Linked DNA regions of Homo sapiens: region 2 is linked to region 1. Evidence: fine-mapped expression QTL. Tissue or cell type: nucleus accumbens. Region 1 holds a variant in brackets; the other region holds the start of a gene. All regions are shown on one strand. Distances are from middle to middle.

Region 1 (2,680 bases):
TCCAAACTCCTTCCTGCATGCTGGCCTCACTCCACTCTCAGGTTCCTAGAACCAATGCCACTCTTCTAGGTCCTGCAGAATCCATGGGCAGGGATGCACGGGTTGTTTCTGAGCAAGCAGCATCTGCGAGGGCCTACCTGAAGGACTCTGGGAGGGACACAAGGGCTTTCCCAGAGGGTAGGTCCCTCCATGTGCCCTGCAGCAGCCACGGTACCTTTTCTACCATATGGGAGTCAGTGGGCTGATGGGCTGGTGATAAGAAACAGGGAGGGGGCGTAATGGTCACAAAAGGAAGGAAACACAAGAGGCCGAAGGAGTCCTCACTAGTGTAAGGGGTGTGGGAGAAGGCAGAGGTCCCTGAAAACAGGGGGATGGATTCATAAACTCTCCTCAAATCCAAGAGAAGCACAGCAAGCCAGGGATCATGGGCTCAGAGGTCAGCCAGGCAGAAGATTCTAGAGTCAGCTCTTGTTCTTGTCTTGAGACCACCAGAGAAATTCAAGGCCGGTGGGTGTGTGGCAGAACCAGAACTGGAACCCATGTCTTCTGCCCCTGAGACCTGCACTCTGTGCCTCCCAGAGCTGCTGTTCCTCCAGTCGGGCTGAAGAACGAAGGCTCAGGTGGCCTGGAAGAAAGTGTTTCATGGTGCCCATGTGAGAAGGCCTGGGCGTCCTACCCTGCTATCTACATCTGTAAAGAAGGGCCAGGCCTCTGACCTCAAGGCGTGCTGTCCTGCAGGCTCTGGGCAGGCACAAGGTCCTCCTCTCACCAGTGGGGCAAGGATGAGACATGCTTATGTGGGATCAGGAACACAGCTATTCAGATCCAATTGGGAGGAGGGTGAGTGCTCCCTTGGGGCTCCTGTGGGAGGAAGGAGCTGCTTCCTCTAAGAGGAGGAGCTTGAATCTGCACCAGAGGCTTGGACCAAAGAACTGACCTACCCATGTGAGCATGCCCCTAGCTGTGCCTCCTGGTGACCCTGCCGAAGTGTCAGCCTGTTAGCCCAGCTCCCAGACCCTGGGCCGAGCAACCTCTGGTCATGGCCGGTGGTGCTGAGCTTGGGGACAGGGCCACACATTTTGGCTCTCTACATACTCTGGATTCTATACAATCACGCTGGCCACACATGACAGACACAAGGCACAACACATCCATTAGGACAGCAAGTCCATGTCACACTGCACAAATTACATATGTCCCACGGCACAGTGGATGCACAGACAGACCAGCGGAGCTGAGGGGCAGGCGCCTCTGTGTCTCTGTGCTTCTTGGCTCCAGCTGGCAGAACGAGGGCTGTGCACTCTGCTTGCCCATTTTCCCAGCATTCCCCCAGAGCCCCATGCATCCATCAGAAGTGAAATCAAGAAGAAATCTGCTTTCAGCATCCTGGGCAGGCCTGCTGGTGCTGCTTGGTCACTCTGGGCATTGGCTGAACTTTCATGGGTATAAATTGTCTATCAAGAGATTATTCACAACCAAACTTAAGGACCCACTAGGCTCACCTCCTGAGCACACACAGATAAAATACAATAAATACAACTGATCCCCTAATGTCTGCCAGGGCCCCTGGTCAGTGGCCGAGCAGCCGCGGCTGCAGGGGAGAGTGGAGC[A/G]ATGATGCGCCTGGGGACACACAGCGGGGGAGATGGCTTCTGGTGGGGGGCCTGCGGCAGGGCAAGCAGGGCGAGGGTGGGCCTCATTCACATGGGCATCGACATCACAGTATGGGTGGCACTGTACAGCAGGAGCCTCACTCTGGCCGCAGCTACTCAGAAAACGGTGGAAACATGCCCAGGTCGGCAAAGTCTTCGATGTTATAGTTGCCAGTCCCCTGGGTTGGATCTCCTGGCATGGGCAGCATGTCCTGCAGAGGAGAGGAAAAGAGAGCCACAGGGGAGTCAGCTCCTCTGTCCGTGCACTGGGCATGTCCCAGGAGCCCAGTCTGCACTCACCCTCATGGCCATCCCTAAAGGGGCAGCCCAGAGGTCCTCCCCAGCCTTCTGCGGGATGCTCTGCAAGGGTCCTCAAATGTCTGAGACCCGGGGAAACTGTTCTCCCCAGGGAGCTGTTGTGACAGCAGGTAAACGGCATTAGGACATGCCCTTTGTCTATCTAAGGTTGAGTCAGGGACCCAGGGTAGACGAGAACCCCACTGGCGGGGAGACCCCAGGCTGGCCCCAAGCAAGGTGCACCTAACAGATAGCAGATGGCCAAAATATAAGAGAAATGCAACGCAGAGTGGAGTGGAAGGAAGATGTATGTGGAGACCTGGCTGGCCTGTCTTCCATGTTTATCTTAGCGCAGGGACGAATCCCTGAATGGTTAGATTTCAGTTTCAACATGTCTTTCCAGTCCTCTGGGCCTCAGATGACCCATCCAGAAAACGGGAATAGCACTATTTTAGTTTCTTACAGCCAATTCCCCAACATGTGTTCTGTTGAATTCTCAGCCCATGTGATACTCTGTGAGAAAAGAATTCTGTGGACAAATAAGTTTGGGAAACAAGGCACACTTTGCCTACCTCCTAGAAATCCAGTCCTTATTGGTGTAATAAAAGCTCTGATACGTCCTGCAATAAAGAAACTCAATAACTTTGTTTAACCAGTTTTTCGTAAGCTTATTTGGCCAAGAATTCTTTTTAGCATCGTGACCATGAAGATCCATGTCAGGAAATTCTGCCTTA
Region 2 (2,680 bases), 190 kb after region 1:
GGCCGCCCTCTGTGACTCTCCCTGCATCTTCCACAGGGACCCAGCAACCTGCCGTGCCCACAGCAGCCTCTGCACAACACCCAAAAGTTTGTACTAGCTTAGATGTTCACGTTTCTCTTCTCCCACACCCTGCTCATCAGGTAGGGAACTTTCCCAGTGAAAACGGAACTTCCCTACTACAATACCAAAACAAGTCAATGTTGCCACTTGATCAAGAACTCTTCCATTTTTGAAATATTTCCTAATGAGCTCAGTTGTCACAGACTGCACCCTGGGGACAGGTCAGACCAGAAAGCAGAGGATGTCACCTGGGCAGGACCAGGGCTGCTCCACGCTGGTGACCACAGGCTGGGTGTTTTGTGCCCCCGGAGGGTTAGGACACACAGCAGCCAGTCGCAAAGGGCGCAAAGGACCAGCGCTTAGTGGGCGGGGCGGGCAGGGGAGAGTCCCGGGAGTTGTACCCTGTTGAATCCCAGCTCCAAACTTTTCCCTCCGTCAGCGCGGAGCCCTCCACCAGCCAGGACTGGCTGACGCCGTGATGCCACAAAAGCCGGGACCGGAAGAGAAAAATGCGTGGGATGGGGAAGGCAAAGGCGGTTATTTTCAGAACTTCGGGGGCTCCCGGGCCTGCCCTTCGGGTTCCCGAGGATGCGAGGCCAGCGTCCGGCCGCCCGCGGGTCCGGACCGGCGCCTGCCCGGGACCGGATGGGCAGCGATTGGGATGCAGATGCCGCTCTGGTGCTGATGCTGCGGCTGCCGCGTAGTGACAGCCGCTCCACCACCCACCGCGCCGAGCTGCGGCTCCGCGCCCCCGGGGGCGCCCGGCGCGCCTGGTCCGCTCCGGCCCCGGGCAAGGCCTGCGGGCTGCGGCGGGCGGCGGGGCCCAGGCCGCTACTCACCCGGAGGGTTGACCGCCGCCGGGGTTGCCATCTTGCTCGGAGAGGATAGGCGCCCGCTTGGCAGGGGCGCGGGAGGGGCGGCGCGGAGCCCGGCGCTCAGCCCCGGGGACCCGGTCAGGCCCAGGCGCCGCCGCCGCCACACAAAGGACGGCGCGGGCGGGCGGCGCTCCCTCCGCTCTCCCCGCCGCCGCGGCCGCTCGCCGTCCCCGCCTTTCTCTCCTCCTCCTCCCCCTCCTCGGCCTCCTCCTCCCGGTTCAGCCTTTGTCGCGCGGCGGGGGGCGCCCGGCCCGCGGCTCCCCGGTCAGAGCGGTAGCACCGCGAGACTTGGGGCTGCGGACGGCGGGACCCCCAAGTTGGGCGCCGGCGACTGGCGGGGGCAGAGGGCCGGGCGCTCCCTCGGGCTCGCGCAGGTGCTCGGGCCTGGCCGGGCTGGGACCGCAGGCGCCTCTCCCGCGCTCGCCTAGCCCGGGCTGCCCCCGCACGCCCACGCCCCAGGTGTCCGGGCGCGCTTTACCCAGGGGCGCCGTGCCCAGGCCAGGAGGCCAGGGCGGAGCGGGTGAGGGAGAAGCCCATTTAGATTCAGAGGGAAGCCGGTCCTGGGAGACGGCCGCGAGGAACAAAGGCGCCCCAGTGCTGCCCACTTAGCATGCCAGAGCCGCGCTGCTCGGCTCCCAGGCCGGGGACACGGCCCGGTGTTAAGCGGAGGGTGCCCGACCGCGGGAATTCCTAAGGCCACGCGCACCTCCAAGGCCACCGCCGCACACAGCTTCGGAGTGCACAGTGCACACGCCCAGGCACAGGCAGCCGGCCCGAGAAATTGTGAATGTCTTGGCTTTGAGTAAGGCGCTCATCTCTACCCTCCTTCCATAATGACTGCCGTTGATTATTACTTGAGGGCGCTGCAAGGGCCTTATTTACACCACCAAGTTGAGAATTTAAAAAGATTTTTTTTTTTAAATAGGTTTATCTGCGTATCCTGGCGAAGTTTGGATGCAGAGAACTTGGAGCTGTTGTTTTCTACCAGACACTAGGATCCCTGAGAGAGGTAATGGCCCCTAGGAAGGACACGTCACCATCGGGGTCCCCTGTAAAGGTTAAATGGAAGAATAAAGACATCCCAGGTGAACGCTGAGAAGGGCAAGTTGGTCCCTAAACGCAGATAATGTTTGCAGAGACATCAAACTGTCTTAAATCCTTCCAAGGAAGCATTTTCTGGAGGGCAGAAAATTTGGGATGTATGTTCAAATAAGCATTTTCTTCGGGGAGTATTTGTCACTACTAATCTAATAGTCTATCAGTTCTACAAATGTTGAATGTCTGCTGTGTGCCAGGCACAAAGCCAGGTGTTGGGCCTACCATGGAAAGGAAGAAACAGGAGCTCTGTTCTTCTGGTTTGGGGGGTAGAGTGGGGAAGAGTGAAACAAAGTATCTGCACTCAAGAAGCACACAGCTCCCTTGGGGGCTTAGGGCAGAAGCCCTGAAATTGGCATCTCCAGCCTGTAGTCACTAATGAATGAATGAGGGCAGAGAGGAGGTGGAGTGATCAGGGAAAATGAAAATTAGGCTTTGAAGACATGAGTAGGACAGGTGGAAAAAGAAGACATTTCAAGTAAAAAATAAAGCAGGTGTGCACCCAGCCACAAGATAGGCCAGGCCCAGACAGAGAAACCAGGGTATCAGCTATGGCCCGCTCTTGTGCCCCGTATCAAAGTTGACTGTTCCTGATTCCAACATCAAGCCAAATGAGAATTCAGCCTCTCTTCTACATACCCCGAAAAGCA

Which allele goes with the higher level. Alleles are on the strand shown, and positions count from the first base shown. SD is a standard deviation of normalised expression in the study named.
With allele A in place of G in region 1, the expression in nucleus accumbens of the gene that starts at base 1,064 in region 2 is higher (small effect, 0.23 SD a copy in GTEx).

What was found. PIP is the estimated chance that this variant, and not a neighbour inherited with it, causes the effect.
Region 2: ARNT2 starts here. The variant in region 1 is fine-mapped to the expression of ARNT2 in nucleus accumbens (GTEx, PIP 0.99).

What each region holds. Positions count from the first base shown.
Region 1 is chr15:80,592,781-80,595,460 of GRCh38, reverse strand. It overlaps ARNT2 (aryl hydrocarbon receptor nuclear translocator 2), which reads right to left. Exons shown (of 19, transcript NM_014862.4): 19 at 1-1,861. The coding sequence ends at 1,763. Among named protein-coding and RNA genes, the nearest start is that of ARNT2-AS1, 9.6 kb to the right of the region's middle. The variant A/G (reference allele first, on the strand shown) is at 1,611.
Region 2 is chr15:80,402,766-80,405,445 of GRCh38, reverse strand. ARNT2 (aryl hydrocarbon receptor nuclear translocator 2) reads right to left here and starts at 1,064. Exons shown (of 19, transcript NM_014862.4): 1 at 900-1,064. The coding sequence starts at 930. It overlaps ARNT2-DT (ARNT2 divergent transcript), which reads left to right and starts at 1,250. Exons shown (of 6, transcript NR_184070.1): 1 at 1,250-1,455; 2 at 1,861-1,944. RefSeq lists an enhancer at 1,133-1,633.